4 linked regions of the Homo sapiens genome follow. The protein of the gene in region 1 purifies or fractionates together with the protein of each later gene. This does not show direct contact. Each region holds a gene or a part of one and is shown in the gene's direction. Other genes may lie near its edges. The genes, in order: PPP1R3B, PPP1R7, NIPSNAP1 and PPP1R2.

Evidence for each region.
Region 2: the proteins of PPP1R3B (region 1) and PPP1R7 purify together in Homo sapiens (co-immunoprecipitation; one large-scale study listed by IntAct). This does not show direct contact.
Region 3: the proteins of PPP1R3B (region 1) and NIPSNAP1 purify together in Homo sapiens (co-immunoprecipitation; one large-scale study listed by IntAct). This does not show direct contact.
Region 4: the proteins of PPP1R3B (region 1) and PPP1R2 purify together in Homo sapiens (co-immunoprecipitation; one large-scale study listed by IntAct). This does not show direct contact.

Annotation. Positions count from the first base shown.
Region 1 is NC_000008.11:9,135,683-9,138,206, reverse strand, and holds the end of PPP1R3B (protein phosphatase 1 regulatory subunit 3B), read left to right. Parts: 3' UTR 1-1,952; downstream 1,953-2,524. UniProt on the Homo sapiens protein: Acts as a glycogen-targeting subunit for phosphatase PP1. Facilitates interaction of the PP1 with enzymes of the glycogen metabolism and regulates its activity.
Region 2 is NC_000002.12:241,167,399-241,170,970, forward strand, and holds part of PPP1R7 (protein phosphatase 1 regulatory subunit 7), read left to right. Parts: intron 1-277; exon of another isoform or gene 278-339; intron 340-2,382; coding exon 2,383-2,469; intron 2,470-3,572. UniProt on the Homo sapiens protein: Regulatory subunit of protein phosphatase 1.
Region 3 is NC_000022.11:29,564,092-29,567,663, reverse strand, and holds part of NIPSNAP1 (protein NipSnap homolog 1), read left to right. Parts: intron 1-3,572.
Region 4 is NC_000003.12:195,519,266-195,522,837, reverse strand, and holds part of PPP1R2 (protein phosphatase inhibitor 2), read left to right. Parts: intron 1-3,572. UniProt on the Homo sapiens protein: Inhibitor of protein-phosphatase 1.

The DNA of each region.
Region 1 (2,524 bases):
ACTATTAATAGCATAAATCGAACTCAAATGGAAGCAAAACTGATTTCATGCAGGTCCTGAATTTTACTTTGCCTTAAGAAGTGCCCTCCCCACAATGCAGGAGAGGCACAGAGTGCACTGTCATTGACATGTTACCCGACTAAGGATCACTCTGTTCATAAGAAAAAGGCCTGAAGTGACTCTGTTTAATAAAGTCAGTTTAATTTTATCTAATAATGATCTTAAGACATTCCCATGTCAAAATTTGAAATATGGTAATTCAGTGATAACTATCTCTTCTAAAGCAGCCGTAAACCCTCCCCACTACCCGTCTTTCTCCCAGCTCACCCTGGCTTTTTTTGCTGGGGGTGCTGGATGCAAGCCCCCAGCCAGCACACCTGGGATGCTCACCCTGCCGCACAGTTCAGAAGGCAAGTCCTCACCTGCTCGCAAAGACCCTTCTTCTCCAATAAAAGACTCTACTTGCCTGAGTTTCCTCATCAGGGCTGTCATTCAGTGATGTATGGGGGTCTGAAGAATACTGCCTTCTATCTGTCTTCTGTTTACCACTTGCTCCTCTGCTACCCTCCTGCCGCAAACAGTCTTCTTCCTTTTGGCCCAGTTCTGTCCCGTGAAATTCTCAGAAGGCCTCGGGAGCTGCGCTGATGTATTCTCTCCTTGTTTGATAGCTCATCATCAGTAGATAAGCCTACACACTTCAGAGGGTGACAGGTTTCTTACTTGGAGACTTCACTGCACCTTGACTTGTAGATTTGCCTTCAGACAGCTCTTGGTTATGGTTACAAGTGGCCCCCGAGTCCCAGAATCTTTCCCAGGTTGCCCCAGAAAGACCAGCCACCTGTCACAGGTGCAGTTGTCCGGCAATAGGGAAGCAACTTCATTTTTGTTTTATATTTATTCCCTCAAGTGCCCTGAGGAGCATTTGCAAACTGGGTACAATAAATAAGCTGGATTATACAAAGATATTTAATAAATAAGCTTTCAGTATCTATTGGAAGACATGAAGCATTTGAGTGGGTTTCTTTATTTAAAAAATTATTCTACTGGAGCTGGTGAGAAATAATGAAGCTGTACAGTTCTCCAGAAATTAAAACAATGTCAGAGTCAATGGGAGAATTTAATTTACCTTTAAGATTTCATTTTAATGGTGGCAAAATTATACATTCTTAGAAGATGTAAATTTGGAACTGTTAGGAGATTGCTCTGTGGTTTTGATCTTTTCAAACCATTTTCTTTTTGAAAAAAGGCATTAGTTGTAGTCATGGACATTAAATGGGCCATATATGCTTATCAATCAAAAAAGTGTTCCTTTTTTGGAACTGCCCATTTTCTGGATCTTCCCTCTCAATGGATAGGGGATGAAAACCTTGGTTGCCTTTTATTTGTTTCCTCTTCTAAAATTTCTCACCTGAATGTAGTCCTGGGAGAGTCCCGATCACGTCTCTCCTGACATGTTCACTGAAATCGGAGACAAGAAGTTACATGGATGATGGGATCTTATAGGGTCACACAAAGACAATTTGGCAGCTTATCTTAATTTCCTGCAGTGAGACAACACATGTGGAACTGGGAAGGACAGCTGTTGTTACGAGCAGTTTTTCCTGGTCATGGTTGTAAAGCTCTGTAACCCACATTGTAAAGCCGTGAATGTTTTTAGTCTTGTTGACGAGTTTTTAGAGACTGCTGGACCTCTGAGGGCTTTGAGAGTGCAGCTGTGATGATGTTTCACTATTACTTCAGTGTGAATGTAGAACCAAGGACTCATCTTCATTTTATACCTAAAAGTGCCTTGTCAAGAAATTTTTGCATGTTTTAAAAGATAAATATTTTTGTACACAGAGTTCAAGGGGAAATGCACTTTAAAAATCCCAAGAATGGATGTTCTTTGTGTGGTATGAGAGGTTGGTTTGTATCTCAAAAGCAAAAATGTAATAAAGGAAGACAAAACAAAACTGAAAGTGTCCTTCTATTCTTAGAGCCAGAGTAAGTGGAGAAACATTTCAAATCGATATGTTTCCACATGTAGATCTTAGGTTTCCAAAGAAAAAGCTTGCAGTCAATGGCTGAGTTAAATGTGCAAGGCAGAGAGGAGTTAATTGCTTTAGCATAGCTGAGAAGGTAAGTGCTAGGGAAGAGATACAGGAGCTAGTGTTATTCTGCACCCATTTTTAATGATCCTAGGTCATAGGCATTCTTACCCTGTCATTTGCACTTGAAGTACAGTGCAGACAGACGTATTCAAACAAAAGCAGGAAAACTATAAATGGCTACCATAGCTTTTAACTGCTTGAGCAAACAAACTAAGCAGCAAAACAAAACAGCCCCGGATAGGTAGCGGATAGTCACCCTAAGTGAGATTTCCAGAGCTGCTTTTTTCCAAAGTTCAGGACAAGATGCAGGCAGAGTGGGGGTGGGAAGCTGCATCTAGAAGTTCCATGTCAACAAGTCCTCTGCCACCCTGGGGAAGTGGGCGGTGGCTCCAGTGGAAAGGCAGAGTGTATTAAAGTTTAGCAGCTAGTGTGTA
Region 2 (3,572 bases), on another chromosome or scaffold:
ATAAAACTAGCATGCAAACCAAGTGTTCACCTGTGTAGTTTAGAGTGGTAAGTCGAGACGTGCCTGCAGTGGAATGGCGCTGAGGACTGTGTGGCAGGGGCTGGGGTTGGGGCCGGGTGGGGTGCGCAGCAGGGAGCCCTGGTGCCCTCCTGCACCCTGGCCTCCCTGAGCCAAGGCCCTGCAGTCACCACCAAGCATCCACCGGGAGACAGACAATCTGCAGCACAGTTCACATAAGCAGCCAGTCCCAGGAAAACTGGAAAGAAGTGTGGTTCAGAATTTTACCAGTAGAAGTGCTACACTGTGATCTTGGTTAAACACCAGATTATTCTTGGGCCTCTGAAACAAAACAGAAAAAAAAAAATTGTTGTATTAAAGGTAATTACGTTATTGTAATCTTCATCATGATCAAATGTGACAGTCTTTCTTCTGCCATTTTTTTCAACTAAAGATCAGACAAATATTTTCTCCTAAGTTTTGTTTCTTAATTTATCTGGAATTTATTTTTATGGTGGGAAATAAGAAAGTAAATGTAGTTTTGTCCCAGGTGGGAACTTAGACGACACCCCCCATCCCAGTGTCTCACGACTCCTGTCTTGTTCTTCGTGTCTTCTCCAGCTCTGGGCTCTCCCGTTGGTCTAGAATATGTTTGCAGTGGTCCCTGACAGGTGTAGTTTCTGTGGCGTTGTGTCATGCCCTTTGGTGTGCCTGCTCTCCTCACCCTGTTCCATTCTTTTTTTCTGTTTCTTAAGCAGTTCTTACTAGTTTGCTTTTGGATGAGTTTTCACAACATTGTCCAGCTCCTGTAGAAAAACGTGAAATAGTGTTGAGTGCCTACATGGATCCCTGAGCTCAGAGGTGATGGACCGGTTCTGACAGCCAGAGCCCACCACCGGCTCTGCCCCTCGTGCTGAGCCTTGGTGCTTGGACCTCACGAGGCTCAAATCCTGCGTGTGTTCCAGGCCACTTTCATTTTGCCAGTTTCTGGGCTTGCATACCAGATGACCATGAGCATCTCAGAATGGTGCAGAGTGCGGGGGAGAGCTGCCGTCCGTGCTAGAGAGGCCTGTTCCAGCCCCACCGCCAGGCGGTGTGTCGTTGGATTACCCACAGTCGCGTCTTCTGCAACATTTTCCTGCAGTCCTTTTTGCTCTGAACCCGCCCCACTGAGCTCCCTCGCACACTGTTGAGCCTGATACTCTGTGAGCAGACCTGACCAGGGCACCGAGATGGGGTGGTTTGAAGGCACCTCCTAGGCAGCATGCCACGTATAGCCTGCTGGAGAGTGGCGTCAGACTTGACACACGCAGCTGGTGCCAGCTGGGGTGCTGGGCGCCAAGGCAGCAAGGGTGGTACAGCCAGAGGAGCTCCCAGGCCACAGCCATAGCGCTTTCGAATTGGGAAAGCTACTGGCTGGGTACATTTCAGGGGAGATGGGGGGAGGAGTATTTGCTTTTGAGAAATTTTTTAACTTTCCCTTAAAACTTAGAAGGCTTTGGAATTGGAATACCAAAAATGCAGTAGAAAACCAAGGAAGGGACTCAGGAGGGAGCAGAGCGTGAGGGCAGAGAAGGGAATGAACTTTGTCAGAGGTTCTCAGACAGCTTGTAAATGTTTTCCTTTTGATGAGAAACAAAATTATTACTCAGGCTTAGCTAACATGTATTGGAAAGTGAGTAACTGATGTGCATTTTCAGAGTAGAAGATCCTAAAAACACACTCTTGTCTCCCAGTGGGGGCACACACCCTGCAGCAGGTGCTCAGCAGGCCCAGCACCCAGTCCTCAGCATGGGTCCCTTCTCTGCACTTATGCTCCCGGGACCCTTTTCCCAGACAAGAGTGTAGGCCTGGGGTCTGAGAGTCCTGCCTCTCCCACTGCTACTGTGCGCCTGGGCAGATTCTTAGCCCCACTGAGCCCCAAGTTCCTCATCCCTAAATGAAGAGAGGAACTTTGTTTTGAAGATTACTTGGTCGTACATTTCCTCGTGATGAGCACTAAGTAAATGTTTCTACAATTGTCAGCCTTTCTTCAGAGCGTCAGGGGGTTACTCGGTTCTTCCTGGGACCATCAGTCTCACTAGGTCTGTCTCAATGGACAGGGATCTGGGAGGACTGGGCTTGGAGTCTGACACAGTCTCAAATTCCAGCGATCAGGAGAGCTCAGGGAGATAGCTGGGCAGGCTCTGATGGAAACACTGTCCCAGGGAGGGCTGCAGGAAGCAAGCAGGTCTCGTCACCCTCCATAGCATGCCCTTACCCTGTGAGGGCAGAGAGGGCAGTGCACCTGCAGCCCTAAGGTCAGCACTTGACACTGCCTGCGTGGTCATGCAAATCACTGTTGATCAGAGGTAATCCAGGAAACATTTTATTTCCTTCTTTTAGAACAAACTCACGATGTTGGACATTGCATCAAATAGAATCAAAAAGATTGAAAATATCAGCCATCTAACAGAGCTGCAAGAGTTCTGGGTAAGTTTAATACACGCTGGGGTTGATGACACTTTGACTAAACTGGTCTCACTGATTAAAATGTCTTATGAATGAATACAAGAATCTCCTGTAAGCCTTCATGCTGAGTGACTCCGCACATCATGAGATTTGGGGTGGGCGCTCTTGTAGACTTGTATTGGGTGTTGTCTGTGCTCCTCAGCGTGAGCCACAGATCAGCAGCATTGACATAGCTTGTTAGAAATGCAAAATCTTGGGCCCCACCATAGCCCAGATGAAAACTGAGTCAAAATCTTTGCTTTACAAGACTCCGGGTGATTGCAGTACACACAAAGGTTGGAGAAGCCCTGATCTAGGTATGGGTAGAACCTACAATTGTCATTTGACCAAATGGTTTGCAAACCTCAGCAGAGAGGCAGACGCATTCCCTACAGATATATTCCAGCACAACAGAAGGAAATGTTGGATGGGTTTCTGCAGTTAGTCATCTTGGAATTTGCCTTGTATTTGTCTTGTCACAGGTATGGTTTCAGGAGTAGTGTTGTGGAGTCAGCAGGAAGAGAAACAGAATATAAGAAGTTTTTGCAGTTCCTCTAAAGGGGTTGGGAAATGATCCCCGAGTGGAAGTCTTCAGTGCTAGGATTCCCTTAGAGAAATCTCCTAAGGTTTATTGCCTTTCCGCTAGCACGTGGCCCTGCAGAGACTGCGGCACAGGTGTCACCCTGTGATGCTGGGAATGTAGTAGTGTCCTCAGATACATTCAGTCTAATCCAGGATTCATGCTGAGTGTAAGGCATCATTCTTCCTTGTCTCTCCTCTAGCCGTGCTGCTGACCCTGCTTATGTCCTGTGCTTTCTCCTTTCCCCACTTTAAAAGGTCATCCAAGTTTCCCTAGAACACAGGTGGCCTGCTGCAAATGTTCCTTGCCCCTTATTAGTGGCACTGGGTCTTGAGTAGTGTCATGATGGGATACCAGAGCATGTCTGGGAAGATCAGAGCCAGAATTTGGCAGGTGATAAAGATGTACCAGGCCAGGGGGAGCCTCAATGAGTCCAGGTGGGTCTATGTGCAGCCCACCCTTGAAGGAAGGTGTGGCTGGTGGTAGGCTGGTTGAATTAGTGCAT
Region 3 (3,572 bases), on another chromosome or scaffold:
CCAGGGTGGTCTCAAACTCCCGGGCTCAAGCGATCCTTCCACTTTGGCCTCCCAAAGTGCTGGGAGTACAGGCATGAGCCACAGTGCCTGGACTATTCACTTTTCTATTTTGGCATAGATGTCACCTCCTCCTGGAAGGCTGCCGAGATTTCCTCCACGCGGGCTGGGTCAGGCACCTTCCTTAGCTCTCCAGGCCTCAGTAATTACCTCCTCACGCCCTGATCATGTACCCCTATAGCTGCCTGTTTAGTTGTCTGTCTCCATATATGGGTGAATCCCCAATATGCAGCACATATTTGTGGAATAAATAGGAGTTCTTCTTGTCTGAGCTGGTGTCTTACAGTCCCAGGGGCACCCCTAGCATGCCCCATCCCAGCCTAATAGACACATCAAAGTTGGCACCAGCTATAAGAACCCACACATGAATTTGGCTGACTCACAGCATCTCAGCCACTCAAAGGGACCTCAAATTCAGACCCACACTGTCCAAAATGATAGCCACTAACCACATGTAGTTATTTATTTATTTATTTTTTTGAGATGGAGCCTCGCTCTGTACTGTCACCCAGGCTGGGGTACAGTGGTGCAATCTTGGCTCACTGCAACCTCTGCCTCCTGGGTTCAAGTGATTCTCCTGCCTCAGCCTCCTGAGTAGCTGAGGTTACAGGCGTGTGCCACCACACTTGGCTAATTTTTGTATTTTTAGTAGAAACAGGGTTTCACCATGTTGGTCAGGCTGGTCTTGAACTCCTGACCTCATGATCCTCCCGCCTGAGCCTCCCAAAGTGTTGGGATTACAGGCATCAGCCACTGCGCCTGGCCTATTTATTTATTTTTTTGAGACAGCGTCTCACTCTGGTTTCCCAGGCTGGACTGCAGTGGTGCAATCACAGCTCACTGCACCCTTGACCTCCCGGGCTCAGATGATTCTCTCACCTCAGCCTCCCAAGTAGCTGGAACTACAGGTGTGCACCACCACAGCCAGCTAATTTTTTATATTTTTAGTAGAGACAGGGTTTCGCTATGTTGCCCAGGCTGGTCTTGAACTCCTGGACTCAAGCAATCCGTCAGCCTTGGCCTCCTGGACTACTGAGATTACAGGTGTGAGCCACTGCGCCCTGGCCTCACATGTAGCTATTGAAATTTATATTAGTTAAAATTACATAAAATTTAAAGTTCAAGCTGTGTGCCAAGGTGCTCACCTGTAGTCCTAGCTACTTGGGAGGCTGAGTTGGGAGGACTGCTTGAGCCCAGGAGTTCGAGGCCGTGATTGAATACCATCACACCTATGAATAGCCACTGCACTCCAGCCTGGGCAACACAGTGAGGACCCTGTCTCTAAAAAAGAAAAAATTCAGGACTGAATATGGTGGCTTATGCTTATAATCCCAGCAGATTAGGAGGCTGAGGTGGGAGGAACACTTGAGGCCAGGAGTTTGAAACCAGCCTGGGCAACATAGTGAGACTTTGCTTCTATAAAGAAAATACATATTAAAAAAAAAAGAAGAAAAGATTTTAAAAAGAAAAAATTCAGTTTCTTAGTCATACTAGCTACATTTCAAATGCTCACTCATATACACACAGGCTCATGCAGAAAGTACTTTTGGACAGTACTGGTTTAGAGTGTCTGCATAGCACAGCCATAACAGATGGTCCTCTAAACTTCCCTTGAACACTCCTAGCCATGAAGAGTTCACTTGTAAGCCAATCTATTTCATCCTTTGACAGCCCTGATAATCGTGTCTTTGAAAATAATCTGTGACCTGCAGATAGATAGGTGTATCTCCTTAATCAATTATTTGGTTTCCGTAACAGACATTAACATATTATTTATGTTTTATTTTTATTATTTCCATTTAGAAACAGGGTCTCACTATATTGCCCAGGCTGGAGTTGAATTTCTGGGCTCGGGCAATCCTCCTGAGTAGCTGGGACTACAGGCGTGTGCCATCATACCTGGCTAGACACTGATATGTGGCTAAGGGAATAAGAGAAAAGCAAATTGCCTTCAGTTTCAGCCACTACAGCTTTCCCATTTTAAGCTTGACTTGATCAGCTCCAGCAGTATTCCTTGAATTCTCTTAAGCATTTGCTAGTTGTGAAATGAACTCTGAGGGATGGGATCCTGACTTTTTCTTTTTTTTCTTTTTCGAGACCGAGTCTCACTCTGTTGCCCAGGCTGGAGTGCAGTGGCGTGATCTCAGCTCACTGCAACCTCTGCCTCCCGGATTCAAGCAAGTTCTCTTGCCTCAGGCTCCCGAGTAGCTGGGACTACAAGTATGAACCACCATGCCTGGCTAATTTTTGTATTTTTAGTAGAGATGGAGTTTCACCATCTTGGCCAGGCTGGTCTCGAACTCCTGACCACAGTTGATCCACCTGCCTCGGCCTCCCAAAGTGCTGGGATTAAAGGCGTGAGCCACTGCCCCTGGCCTTTTTCTTCTTTTTATTTTTCTGTTTGGGACAGGGTCTCGCTCTGTCACCCAGTTTGGAGTGCAGTGGCATGATCATAGTTCACTGTAACCTTGAACTCCTAGGCTCAGGCGATCCTCTCACCTCAACTTCTCGAGTAGCTGGGACCACAGACATGCACCACCATGCCTGGGCTAGTTGTTTTGTTTTGTTTGTTTGTTTGTTTTGTAGAGATGAGGTCTTGCTATGTTGCCCAGGCTGATCTCAGACTCCTGAGCTCAAGTGCTCCTCTCCTGCCTCAGCCTCCCAGAGTGTTGGGATTACAGGCCTGAGCCACTGCGCCTGGCTGATCCTGACTTTTTAAAGCATACCCTACATTTTTTGTACCTTGAAGTTCAGTCCCTCACATAGTCAGCTGAATCATGTTGAGCTGTACGCTGGGAGTAGGGTTCAAGAATCTACATTTTAATAAACTTGTAAGAACCATTGATCCATCTCCTATGGAGAGCACCACAGTTGTTAGACAATTCCTTCTTCTTGGCTGGGCGCGGTGGCTCATGCCTGTATCCCAGCACTTTGGGAGGCTGAGGCAGGTGCATCACCTGAGGTCAGGAGTTCAAGACCAGCCTGGCTAACAAGGTGAAACCCTGTCTCTACTAAAAATACAAAAATTAGCTGGGCGTGGTGGCATGCGCCTGTAATCCCAGCTACTTGGGAGGCATAGGCAGGACAGTCTCTTAAATCCAGGAGGTGGATGTTGCAGTGAGCTGAGATCACGCCACCGCACTCCAGCCTGGGTGACAGAAAAATAAAGAAAATTCCTTCCTCTTGCCAATGATGCTGTCCTTGTAACTTTTCTCCGTTAATCCGTTTTCCACAGGTCATTCCTGGTTTTGGTAGATTTCTATCCATACAGTACTTTTGCCATTTCCTTTGGGAAAAAGACCTTTAAACCATAGGGTCAGGCCATTTTGCAGATGGGAAAATCAAGGCACAGATGGAGTCAAAAAACAGGTGAAGGTCAGGCTGGGGATGGGGATGGGAAGTTACAGAGTCTGAGTTTCTAGACTGCTGGCAGCCAGCTGCCCTTAGCTCTAGCTTGCCTGTGTGATCCCCTGGGGACCTTCCTCCGCTGATGGGCCCAGCCATGCTCCCAGGAT
Region 4 (3,572 bases), on another chromosome or scaffold:
CCTGTACCGTGAAGAAGCTGAGAAACTTTAGAACGAAGGATCTTTGTCGTGTAGCTGCTAAGATATCATTTACTAGTCTTTCCTATCATCTTCAGAATATAGCCTGTTCAACAGAGCTATGATGGGCTGAGCCTAATATTTGTACGAGAGAAATTTTACATGTAGCATATTCTCAAGTTGTATTGTATCTCAACTTTCAGTGACTTTCCATTTATTTTCCCAAAATATACCCCAAAAGATCCTTGAAAAGTATTTCAAATAGAAATAGTTTCTGGAGTTTGTTTCCTCATTACTCTCTAAAAACATGATCTGTTGAGAATAAGGAATTTTTTGTTAATGTCAGTTTTAATTGAGGGATGTTTTTCTCAAGTTGTGATTTCATGAGTCAACCAGCAGGGGGAGCCATTTGACTAATTATAATTTCATTAATTCATTTTCCACTGGTGGGGTTATTACTGAATTATATAGATGTTACGTGGCTGAAAAATTGTTGTCTATTGACAGTAGATAGCTTAGGGAGAAAAACTGTAACTCACAGCATAACAATTAAGATTATTGTCTAAGAAGACAGACAAACCTAAGTTTGTGCTCCAGGTATGCCACTTGGCTAATTTGCATAATTTCTCCGAGCCTCCGTTTTCTCATTTCTAAATTGGCAGCTGTAAAAATATTTTGGTGACTACTAAATGAGTTAAAGCATTTAAAGCACTTATCACTGATCTTGGCATATTGTGAGCACTCACTAAATACTAACTTTTAACAACTTAAGATATTCCCCCATAAAAAGTAAAAGTAGGTATAAAAAGAATAATTCACTTGTTGTATTCATATAAATAGTCTGCCTTAACCTTTTTAAATGTTAGTTATGACTTATTAAGAATCATGATGGCCGGGTTTGGTGGCTTATGCCTGTAATCCCAGCACTTTGGGAGGCTGAGACAGGAGGATCTCTTGAGGCCAGGAGTTTGAGACCAGCCTGGCCAACATGGCGAAACCCCATCTCTACTAAAAATACAAAAATTAGCCAGGCATGGTGGTGGGCGCCTCTAATCCCAGCTACTCGGGAGGCTGGGGCACAAGAATTGCTTGAACCTGGGAGGTGGAGGTTGCAGTGAGCCGGTATCATGCCACTGCACTCCAGGCTGGGTGACAGAGTGAGACTTTGTCTTTAAAAAAATAAATAAGTACATAAATAATCATGATGCACAGTTTCAAAAACACTGGCTCATACTGAGAAAATAATAGAACAAATGCACAATATATTTTATATATATAGTCTTAAAAACATTGAAAATTGCTGATATACCTTCACAAAATAAAAACAAACCAAAAGAAACATTGAAAACATGAAGGAAATCAGAAATCTTTAACCAAAAATAGGGAATTAAATTATGACTCAACAACTTGTAACGATTTTAAAATTACATAAATCATTATGGCAGAATGTTTACTGTATGTTCATATACTTTATTGTCTAAACTGGGTAATTATTGCAGTTCTTTTTTTTTTTTTTTTTTTTTTTTGAGACAGAGTCCTGCTCTGTCGCCCAGGCTGGAGTGCAGTGGCGCGATCTTCGCTCACTGCAACCTCCACCTCCCAGGTTCAAGTGATTCTCCTGCCTCAGCCTCCTGAGTAGCTGGGATTACAGACGTGTGCCACCACGCCCAGCAAATTTTTTGTATTTTCAGTAGAGACGGGGTTTCACCATGTTAGCCAGGATGTTCTCAAACTCCTGACCTCATGATCCGCCCTCCTCGGCCTCCCAAAGTGCTGGGATTACAGGCGTGAGCACTGCGCCCGGACTTCAGTATAAGTTTTAAAAATATAAGTATAGATGTTGATAAAAGCTTAGGGAATTAAGAAAGTACTGGCCAGGTGCGGTGTCTTACACCTGTAATCCCAGTGCTTTGGGAGGCTGAGGCAGGTGGATCACTTGAGGTCAGGAGTTCAAGACCAGCCTGACCTACATGGTGAAACCCCGTCTCTAGTAAAAATCAAACAAAGAGAAAGTACTTTGGAGGCCAGGTGTGGTGGCACGCATCTGTAGTTCCAGTTACTTGGGAGGCTGAGGTAGGAGGACTGCTTGAGCCCAGAAGTTGGAAGCCAGCCTGGGCAACAGTGAGATCTCATCTCTAAAAATTAAAATTTAAAAAAAAGAAGAAAGTACTGTAAATACCCTTATTGAGAGATGTCTCTGCTTTTTAAAAAGTAAATAAATAAATTTTTGAGCTACGGTCTCACTTGTCAACCCAGGCTGGAGTGCAGTGGCATAGTCGCGGCTCACTGCAGTTTCAGCCTTCTAAGCTTAGCCAGTCCTCCCATCTCAGCCTTCCCAGTAGCTGGGACCACAGTCGTGTACTACCACACCCAGCTAATTTTTTGTAATTTTTTTGTAGAGATAGGTTCTTGCCATGTTGCCCAGGCTGGTCTTGAACTCCTGGGATTACAGGCATGAGCCCCAGCATCTGGCCTCTGTGCATTTTTGACATTGAAATATTTTGATGAAATTTTTAATAAAACAATGGTGAAGCCAGGCGCAGTGGCTCATGCCTGTAATCCCAGCACTTTTGGAGGCCAAGGCAGGCGGATCACCTGAGGTCAGGAGTTGGAGACCAACCTGGCCAACATGATGAAACCCCGTCTCTACTAAAACTACCAAAATTAGCCAGGAGTGGTAGCACATGCCTGTGATCCCAACTACTCGGGAGACTGAGGCAGGAGAATCGCTTAAACCTAGGAGGCTAAGGTTGCCGTGAGCCAAGATTGCACATTGCACTCCAGCCTGGGCAATTAGAGTGAAACTCCATCTTGAAAAAAAGAAAAAATAAAACAACGGTGAATAATTTTAATGCTGTTCATTGGTAAAATAGCTGGCAATTTTATATTGGCCCCCCCTTTTCTGTTGTTTTTTTTTTTTTTTAATTTTCTGATCTAAGGAAGTTAAAAACCTTAAAATTATGTATTCATAAATAGTTGCTCTAGTGTGATCAGTTGTGTTGCTGCCAGCTTTATGTTTCTATGGTGAAGACTAAAATGAAATATTTTGGAGTCACTTCACCATTACTTTATAATACGTTTTTCTTAAAATTACTCTGAAAATGAGGTTACGTTTTTAGCCAACAATGTCTTAAATCATGGCAGTTTCTTAACAGGTAAGAATTGTTTTAAAGGATTTTTTCTTAATTATAAAAATAGAAAATAATAAAATATTAAAACTACTTCATTGTTCCTTGACTCAGAATTAAACACTGTTAATTGCTGAGTCTTATTTTTCTCTCTGTGTGTGTATGTGACAGGCATTGTACATAGTAAATATAGTATATGGTGTTGTAACTCGCTCTTTTGTCACCATTTAACTCTTTCTGGATAATTTTCCCATAGCTTTAATCTTTCTTCACAAATATAATTTCTAATGGCTGGATATATTCTTGTTCTTCCATTGAGATGAATGCCAGATAGTAAATATTTTAAATTTTGCAGGGCCCAGTGGTCTCTATTACGAACTACTCAACTCTGCCATTGAACACAAAAGCAGCCTTAAGCATGACAAAAACAAATGAGCATCACTGTTT